2 separate regions of the Homo sapiens genome follow, and region 2 is linked to region 1. Evidence: fine-mapped expression QTL. Tissue or cell type: whole blood. Region 1 holds a variant in brackets; the other region holds the start of a gene. All regions are shown on one strand. Distances are between the middles of the regions.

Evidence for each region. PIP is the estimated chance that this variant, and not a neighbour inherited with it, causes the effect.
Region 2: TGFA starts here. The variant in region 1 is fine-mapped to the expression of TGFA in whole blood (TOPMed, PIP above 0.99).

Annotation. Positions count from the first base shown.
Region 1 is chr2:70,514,065-70,519,064 of GRCh38, reverse strand. It overlaps TGFA (transforming growth factor alpha), which reads left to right. Exons shown (of 6, transcript NM_003236.4): 2 at 4,153-4,206. Among named protein-coding and RNA genes, the nearest start is that of TGFA-IT1, 35 kb to the right of the region's middle. RefSeq lists an enhancer at 4,289-4,791. The variant G/C (reference allele first, on the strand shown) is at 2,885.
Region 2 is chr2:70,550,910-70,555,909 of GRCh38, reverse strand. TGFA (transforming growth factor alpha) reads left to right here and starts at 2,084. Exons shown (of 6, transcript NM_003236.4): 1 at 2,084-2,182. The coding sequence starts at 2,143. LOC124907824 (a long non-coding RNA gene) reads right to left here and starts at 3,202. Exons shown (of 2, transcript XR_007086906.1): 1 at 2,518-3,202. RefSeq lists a silencer at 1,954-2,023.

The DNA of each region.
Region 1 (5,000 bases):
ACCACCTCGTCTGAATCCAGAACATCCTTCATCCAAAAGGACCTGCTGCAGCCTCTTCATCCTCCCACATCCCCCTGAAAACAAAAACTTACCCTTCATCCCTTCATGCAGGAAGTCTGGCTTAGAGGATCCCAAACAGGTGAAAGGTAGAGCTCTTGATATTCTAGAGGGAGCAACTGATCCATGCAGTGGAGTACATAGGGGCCTGAAAGCAAACCCCAGCCCCAGCAGAGGCCAGAGCAGGACATGGTCCACTCTGCTGAGGTGGTCAGGGGCCAGAGGATGCTCCTCCCAGCTCCAGGCACTATAGCTGAGTGTCCACAGAAGAGGTGGTCACCAGGCCAATGGGTGGTTGATGATGAAGGGTGTCTGACGCTGAAGGCACAGCCTGGGTATCTGTGCAGAATTGCTAGTCCCATGCCTGATTGAGGAGTTGGAGTGGGGGTATCCTGCTCTGGGGCCCAGGGGAGAGGGGTGTCCAGCCTCTCTTAAGAGCATTTCCCATTGACACATCAGCACATAGGTTTTGGGATGGCTCCACTTCTGGGGACTCATGAGCTAAATGGGTGAGCCTCCTTTTTACCTTGTTTCTGTTGGGAACATTTACCTGAGTACCAAACAGCTGAACGATAAGCATGGCAACACTTGTCCTTCCTAAGGGCAGACCAGGTTCCCACTCTATTTTGAGGGACACAGGATCAGCCTTTCATAAGGGTTTTCTTCCGTTGCATGTGGTTTTCCCCTTGATACCACCCCCTTCTTTTCTTTTTTCTTTTTGAAGTCCACAGTCTTGGGATTTCCCTCTTTGGAGCTATTTAAACAGAAATAGGATGCCAGCAGGAGTGGCCTAGAAGGGATTCCTAGAAGCCTTCCTGTCCCGAGGGCCTGCGGCGGGCAAGGACCTGCTTTGAAACTTAGGCAGGAGGAGCCTGTGGCTGTGGGCCACCAGGCCTGTGCACTGTGTGTCTCCCTGAGCCACTGCATGTGGCTGCGGTGCCTGTGGCTGTCCTCTCCCCATCCTTCCTTTGTTTGGAGTGACCCTTGGAGCCTGCCAAGGCCACATGTTTCTGGAAGGTCCTCACACAGCCTGGCTTTCTAAGCACAGTCGTGTGGCCAGAGGGCTGGGCAGCTGGTGAGCCTGGGTGCTCATACCTTTGCCCCTCATTAGACCTTGTTCATGGCAGGGAGACTGGAGGCAGTGGGAGAATCCCCAAGAGGCAATGCATGACTCTCAGGGAGAGACGGATCAAGGCTCAGCCGCTGGGCCTGCAGAGTCTGTTGTTTGGACTAACTTGGGGTTTGTGACTGCTGAATACACACCTGTGTCACAACTGGCCATGGTGAGAAGGACTGTGGTGTGGTCTGGTAATTAGACACTGTCTTGTGCATGGGAGTTGGAGACACTTGAGTTTGAATGTGGCTGCAGGAGCTTGGGCAAATTTCTTAACCTCTCTAAGCCTCAGTTTCTTCATCTCTATGACTGGGCATTTCTACCAGCTGGACCAGAAGGTTGGGAGGCACCTATGTCATGAGTTGTTATAAGGACTAAGTAAGAGAACACATGCAGAACATTAGCACTGGGCCTGGGACTAGGTCATGCCCAAAAAGTGGTACACATCCACCTGCAAAGTGAGAGACCTGAGCCCTGTCCTCCTGCTCCAGGGTCCTCTTAGGTTCACCACATGATGAAGACAAAGCAGAGGCCTTGCCGCTCATCACAGGGCCTCAGCTGATGCTAGGCATGGATCAAGATTGCAGAGTGAAGCCCAGGGCACCAAGAAGTTGTTTTCCGTGAGGGTATAGAAAGGACCTATTCTTCTTGTGTTGCTCAAATTATGAATAAAAAGCCAGTGTCTTTCATCTGTGGAACATCGTGGTTTTGCAAACTTTAATTCATTCCCAAAACACCTCTGTGAGTTTAGCAGCTGCGAGCTCACAGGTGAGGAACAGAAGGTGAAGTAATTTGCCCCAAGGCTGGGGAGCAGGCCCCCATTGCACACCCTCATCTTCCTGGAGCAGTGGTGCTCATCAGTGTCTTGTCCTGGATTCAGCTGTACAGTGTTTGCTTTCTTGTCTGGGTTTTGCTTAAACAGAGGCCAACATGGAGCCCAGGAACCATGCTGACTGGGTTCACCCTGACTGACAGGATAGGGAGCAGGAACAGGGCATGAAGATAATTCTTTAGTTCGGGGCAGTTTGTGACAGGCAAGTCACGCTTCCCCTCAGAGTATGCAAAGCATCCCCGGTGTCATCCTTGAACACTATTATGAGTCACTGGCTGACTTTAGCCAAGGATGGTTTGTGGCAGTGCCAGCGAAGTCAGAACATGACTGTTCCCCAGCTTCAAGGGGGCAACTGCTGACTTTTCCCGGCTTGGATGGGGATGCCTTGTTTTAACACTGGTGTGTGGGTGACAGAGGGGCCCTGGGAGCCTTGCTTCCAAAATTAGCATCAATTGGACAGCAAGAAAGAATTGCACAGGGAAGACATGCATGATTTTACTGATTTTCTCTCCCTGTCCCCCTGCCCTGCCTCCAACTCCAGCCCAAACATCTGGCTTAGGATTCTGTAAAAGTCTTTCGGAGGTCCATGCCAGACCTCCAGTAAAAGCAGTCTGAAGTTCTTATGTTTCTCATTTCAGAGGTTGGAAGGAACATCGGGAGCATGATTGCTTTATCTATTCCAAGTGTGTTTTGTTCTTTGAGAGTCAGGACTTCTGTGTCTACACCCTAAGTGAAAAGGGGCAAGGAACCCTCACAGCCTGCAGAGTAGGGGGCTGCATCGATCCTGTAACAGACAGAACTTTGCTTGTTTCCTGTGCTAACTTGATTCATTTGCTTTCTGAGCTAACCTGTCAGAGGCCCAGCCCCTCGGCACAGCAACT[G/C]TGGCATCTTTTTGCGTTTCAGTTTTGGGAAGTCATTCTAATGTGGCTCATGCTGATTGCATAACTCAGAAGAGGTTCCTTCTTCATTGGAAGGTTGCTACCATTTCCAGAAACCTCGAGTACTGTAATCTGAAGGCACATAAAGGTCATCTGTTGGCAGGGCTGGTTTTATGGGCATGCAACCTGTATAGGTCACACAGGACCCCATGCTCACAAGGGCCCTGAGCTTGAGGTTTAACACTCTGCAGTTGCAGTCTTAAAAATCTTGTAGTTTTATCTTTAAATTTGCGTCTTGTAGGTGAAGTCCAGTGGGACAATACAGTATGCACTGGGGGCTTAGAGGCTTTGTTCCCGTGGTCCTGCTTATTAATATCTCCCTGCCTCCCCTAGGTTTTCTTGCTCCTGCCATGATCTATCCCTGGCAGGGCCTGGGGTTAAGTACATGGCATCTCAGGGTACGGCATGGTGGCAGCTGTCCCCATTCTGGACTGGCAGCTCCATGGCATCTTCAGTGGGCAACTAGAGAGGGGTGAGCTGCTTGACTCCCCCTGATCCAGGTACCTAGTACATCCTGGCAGGGAGGAGGCAATATCCTTAAGGGGTCACCCATCCATCTTGGGTTGGGACAGCCACTTCCTGGGAATAAGAGATACCTGACTAGACCCCTCAACCCCCAGCTGGGTCACAGCACATTGGCCCGGCTGCCAGCTGGAAGGAAACCCCAGAGGGAGTGGGTCCTTTGCTCCCTTACACACTCTGTCCCTGGGGTATACCTGTGAGAGGCTGCACTCAACCTGTGGGTATCCTCATACCCAAAGGACAGCAATGACATAAATAGCAAACAAACATGATGACATGAACAACAGGGTGAAGGTACTTAATGTCACTGAAATGTACAATTAAAATGGTTGAAATGGTAAATTTTATGTTACGTATATTTTCCCACCATAAAAAAATATATATTTATAAGGTGTTAAGAAAAAACAAAGGCCAAAACCACCCTGACAGATGGAGAGAGAGACTGGGAAGAAGTGGAAGGCTCTGGATTTCAGTGCTTTTCATGGGCATTTTCTTCTTACTTTTTCAACAAGGGGTCCCATGTGCTCATTTTGCACTGATATCCACAAATTATGTAGCTGAGCCTGTCTACCGGCCACTCTGTGAAACTACCGAACCTTTGCCTGTCAAAGGGCCTGCCCTCTAAGCGTCTGAGGACATCATTTGCCAAGCAGACTCTGACCTTTTCCCTCTTCTCCTCCACCCAACAGGTATTGTGTTGGCTGCGTGCCAGGCCTTGGAGAACAGCACGTCCCCGCTGAGTGGTGAGTGCAGCTGCCGTGGGTGTGTGGATCGTGTGTGGGAAGGGAGCGGGCCTGCTGCTGTGTGGCTCCTCAAGAGCTCCCTCCCTGGCCTCCTGCCCACCGAGCACACGCCTGTCCCGGAGTCCTCTCTGCCCCCTCCTCAGGGGCGAGGAGGCGCTCACTGGAAGGTCTTAACTGCAGGCCCAAGGGGGGGCTGTTCCTGGCCCCCTCAGGGGCCTCCCCTACGTGTCTCTCTTCAGCTGTTCAGACAATTCCTGTGGGCAAGTGTGCCAAAACAGGGCCTGCAGGACCCCAGAGCTTGGGGCCAGCTGTTTTCCCCACTCTCGTAATAGTCCACCTGAAGTAGAACCCAGATTTCTGAACCCTCATCGGTGACCTTTGTTTAGTTATTTTCTGGTTTACGTTTTAATACTTATAGTAAAAAAAAAAAAAAAATCGGTATTTTTTTTTATTATTATTTTAAAGATTCTAAATCAAAATAGTGGAGAGCTTGGGACATGTAGGAGGCAAACCATCAGTGGCCACAGCACTGCAGGGGAGCAACCTCTGTTTGATTTGCATGTTGCTTTTGCCCTTTCTCCATGTGTGTTAATATTTTTATACGAGTAGTCCTGGTGAGGAAACAATGTGGATTCCTGCTTTTTAAGCTCAAATGTTGGGGCTGTGCATTGTTCCATGTTGCTGGAAAGTCTTGAAATCTCTTCTCTTAAAATGTCATGCTGTCTCATTAAAGTGAACATGGGTGATTTAATGAAACATTTCCCATTGGATATTTACGGTGGCTCTAGTTTCTT
Region 2 (5,000 bases), 37 kb before region 1:
TTTTTTTTTTTTTTGAGACAGAGTCTTGTTCTGTCATCCAGGCTGGAGTGCAGTGGCACAATCTTGGCTCACTGCAACCTCTGCCTCCCAGGTTCAAGTGATTCTCGTGCCTCAGCCTCCCAAGTAGCTGGGACTACAGACGCACGCCACCATGTCTGGCTAATTTTTTGTATGTTTAGTAGAAATGGGGGGTTTTACCATGTTGCCCAGGCTGGTCTCGAACTCCTGAGCTCAAGCAATCCACCCACCTCAGCCTCCCAAAGTGATGGTATTACAGGTGTGAGCCACCATGCCTGGCCTGCAAGTTACCTCTTGATTTAAAATATTTTCCAATCATGAAGGAAATTGACTTGATTCTGCTACTTCCCTCCACCTCTGACTTTGGGGGTAGGGGACAGATAAGCAGAAACTGCTGAACATGACCCTCAGCCGGCTGGGCAGCCATCCCTCAGCCACAGTGAGCTTGATTTGCGTGTTCCAGTAGGAAGCAAGGAGTCAGGTCCTTCTCTAGTCCTGGGGAACAGGAGAAGGGTGGGGGAACCCCTGATTCCTCCCCTTCTGTAGCCAAAGCAGACTAGTTTAGGGAGGAGACAGGGAAACCACCAGAGCAGGTCAAGATCAACCTGAAGGAAGTGGGAGTCAGGGACAACCTACTAAAGGAAGTGCATGTGTGCCTTGTACATGCATGGGGTGGACCAAGGAAAAGATTTACCCTAAAAGAACAAAGTATGCTCCGACAAATCTATTGAAAGGAATGATTTACACTGGTGCTTCCTGCCCAAATGTTGAGACCAATGGCCTGGTGCTTCCTTCTTGAAACTAGGTTGCTCTACTTACATGAAACAAACTGGGCAGAGGTCAACCGTGAGAGCCTGAGCCTCCCCAAGTAAACAGCAAAAGATTCCCCAGGCCCAACAGCCCCCACCCCCACCTTCAAGGAAAGTGGATCTACCCGGAGCACGTAGGCCAGAGGAGGCAGGAGAAGAGGGTCAGTCCGTGAGCTCCGGGTACCTGGAGAACATGAATCTCCCGGGTGTACTGTCCCCATGAGGGTCACCGAGGAACCTATGGATCTTCCACTCTTCGCCCAGAATGTCTTCCCTCTATCCCCTCCACCTCCCCAAATTCCAGCACCAGGGGCCACCTCAGAGCCACAAATCCTGAAAGGACCACCCAGGTGACTCGGGCCCACACACCCCTCTTTCGGGGTACACTTGGTGGCAGGCTAGCAGGCTTTTGGCCTCAGCTGGTGGTGCCATATAACCAGATTCGTCACAGAGACCCATTTTTTATCAGTCCCAGGCCAGAAGTACGAAGACTGATCTTAACGATGTGGCCTGCCTGGGAGGTAAGGCGGCAGGCGTTGCCAGAATTGATGGGAACTGTGGCACAGGTGGGAAACCTGGTTTAACAAATTCTTCATTGATTCAGGGGACCACTTTCCTTGAGCCAAGTCTTGGCAAGCGGCCGGCGAAACTCACAGGTCCCTTTCCTGGCTGCGTCCCCAGCCTCCAGCCTTCCCCGCCCCAGAGATGCCCCAGGAGCGGCCCCTCGGTGTAGGTAACGGGTGCCCGGGCGGCTCCGCTCCGCCGCCTAGAGCCTGGAAGCCGCCACTGCGGCCCAGGACAATCCGGCTACGCGGCCGGCGCCGACCCCGCACGCTGGAGTCCGCTGCCGCACGGCGCTGGCAGTCGGGGGTGGTGTCTGAAGTCAGGCGCTTCCTGCCTTTTCGTCGGCCCGGGTGCCCGGCTCGCGCCGCCAGGCTCTGGGATCCCAGGTCGCCCCGCCCAGCAGCCCGCGCCCTGCTCGGTGCGCTCAGCGTCCCCGCCCCTTACCCCAAACCCCCACCCTCTGTGCCCTCAGGGGGGCACCCCCATCGGGGCGGGAGGGGGGGGTCAGCTGTGCCCCGGTCGCCGAGTGGCGAGGAGGTGACGGTAGCCGCCTTCCTATTTCCGCCCGGCGGGCAGCGCTGCGGGGCGAGTGCCAGCAGAGAGGCGCTCGGTCCTCCCTCCGCCCTCCCGCGCCGGGGGCAGGCCCTGCCTAGTCTGCGTCTTTTTCCCCCGCACCGCGGCGCCGCTCCGCCACTCGGGCACCGCAGGTAGGGCAGGAGGCTGGAGAGCCTGCTGCCCGCCCGCCCGTAAAATGGTCCCCTCGGCTGGACAGCTCGCCCTGTTCGCTCTGGGTACGTACGCCGGCTGCGGCGCCCCCTGCGCCGCGCGACACCCTGCTTCCCCCGGTCCCCGCCGAGTTCCCCTTTCCGGGGGTTTCTGCGCCCGCCTGGGAGAGTGGAGAGAAGCGAGTAGTCTCAATGGGTTGGCGCCTGGGAGGCAAGGGGAGTCATTAAGAATGACAAAGAGGGGACTGTCCGGTCGAGCGCCGAGGCTTCCCCGGGAAAGTGGCTGCCTGGGCCGTGCGTGAGAACACCTGGGAAGGGGAAGCGGAGTGTGAACGGGCTTGAACTTTAATCCGCCGCAGCTGTGTGTCTGCTCAGACACATGCCTACACCTACCTGCTTACCTGGCTGCCTCCAAGCCCGGCTCAGCCGGCGTCGCTGGCGTGTAGACTGGGCCGCCTCGGAACGGGGGCCGGCGTCTAACCCTCTGGCCGGGTCTTGCCTGCGCCCCTTTGGCACCCCCTGCCCACCTCTAAGCCCCAGCGACGAGCAGAGATGTTCAAGATCGGCAGAGGCGCCCTCGATCTCTTTTCAGAGCTCTTGAGCTTTGGGGGTAGGTTTTGGATTTTTGGGCGGATTAATGGTTCCTTTAATTAACTTCCCTGGGAGAAGTGGTTTCGGTGTCCGCCGAGGGCAGGAGCGAAACCCTAGACCGAGTGTTGCCAGTTTCCTTTGAGTATGTCCTTGGAAATGAAGGAGGGATGGGAAAGGTGAGGGGAAGTTAAACCCCTCTCCCGGGTCGGGTCTGCGGAGCGGTGCGTTTTTTGGCGGTGAAGTTCAAGGGTCTGTCTGGACGCGGTGAGGGCGCAGCGCCGCGCGCCTCCTGGCCAATTCTTGCCCCTTGTGCTGGTGGGTCTCTCTGGTGTTGAGATAGCTGATCAATAGCGCAGGTGTCCTGGTTATTGCTAGTCTTCCGTGAAGTGAATTGTTCGTTCGATATGCCCCGAGTTTAACCCGTATAGCATGCGGCTCGCTGCAGGGTGGTTAGAGTCTGTGGAAAGCCATGGAACTCCTCCCCAGAAATGCCCAGAGCCGCAGCCTCACCCAGCTCCGTGTACAACTACAGGGGGTTCGCGGCCCCGCCTGCAAGCCTGCCCTAGAAACGCTGATTAAAAACCGCAGCAGAAGGGGAGGCATCCTGTAAGAGAAATACAAGGCAGTCTTGGAACCGGATGCTCCCAGCTACACCCTTACCTGAAACTCACCAGCAGGTAACATGGGTATGGGAGGCTTTTCCCCCACATTTTTGAAGAATTGCCTTTTTTGTGTGCATGTATTGACTGTTGCTCTGATTTAAATTTTAGAAAAAGCAATAAAACATTACCAATACAAGGGAAGCTTCCTGGATATAATTATCCCTTGTAATGTTTTTGCAAATAATAGTAGTAAGTAGTAGTAGTAATAACAGCTGATGCTATTCGAGCATTTTACTCTGTGTCAGACACAGTCCAAGTGCTTTACATTTATTCATGCAGTTTTCACACCAACCGGATAAAGAAGGTGTTAATATTATTCTCATTATATAGCAGAGGAAAGTAAAGCACACAGGGTCCACAGTAAGTAACTGGACCAGGATTGTCGAAGAACGTGGAAGGAATGTGAATATGAAAAGTCACCTAACTTGTGGTCATTATAGTCCCATCTCTCTTTTGGGACTTTGCCTTAAAGAGAGATTATGTGGAATACCCTGGAACTTGTTGTTAAATTGAGTTTCCTATTGAATTCCTGGGATCTCAAGGTGGTTATTCGGTAAAAATTAGAGGCAGGAAATGATGAAGATAAGCACATTTGAGTAAGTGTTTGAAAGCTGTCCCTACACCCCACACTCCCATCCCAGAATTCTCGCCCACAAAGACTGCATTCATTCATCATGTAATTTTTCTCTTTTGCCTGAATGTTCTTTTCAGCTTGATCTTTGTTTCCTTCTTTAAGAAAATGATGTATAAACTTTAAAAGATTGATCAATATGTAAAAACTTGCTCACACAGTTCCAAAATGTGAGCAGTTGAAAAAAGTGGAGAAAAAAAAAAGGCAGGAGTAATTTACACCAGTGAGGACTCCTTTTTATTTATATGTCTTTAAAAGAAAAATCACAGCTGTGAGTTCTGTGCGTTTACTAGAACTGCTGCCTCCCACATATAGCTTTACTTTGCACATTTCCTTCAAAGCTGCTTTCCCCTCTGATTTTTCTTAAATAGTTGAAGGCAGTTCCAGGAGAATCAACCAGTGTTCCATCGCTACCCGAGATCTAGGAAACCTCCGTGGGGCTAGTCTGAGAAGGAACTGGCTGTTAGGAGTCTCGGTTAATGTTTGATTACTTGGAACCTGAGCATTGATTAATGTTTTCAGTAAGAGAATGTGAAGACTGTTGCCCAAATGGCAACACTGGAAACATAACCCAGGTTCCTGTGGTGGCTGCCCTCCCATGTCAGGTTTCCATCACTGGCAGGCAGACCGCACGGGGGCTTGGCATTTCCAGTTACATTTCCTCCTCTGTGTTCACGGAGCAAGATGTGTGATCTTGGGCAAGTTACTTAGCTTTTCTATGCCTTGTTTTTCTCACCTGCAAAATGGGGATATTAATAGGGTTGTTGAATATATTTAATGTATGCAGAAGGGTGCCTGGTATGTAGTAAGATCTTAATCTTATCATCATCATCATTGTTGTTGTTACTTTGGGCCCCATAGAATTCCAGACATCATTGCAGGTTATGTGAGTTGTATAACTGGGAGAGTTTGTAGGTTTTCGTTTATCTCATCTCCATGCTCTTTACCATTCCTTCGAAAAATATCACCCAACCTAAAAACCTACCTAGGTAATTTCTGG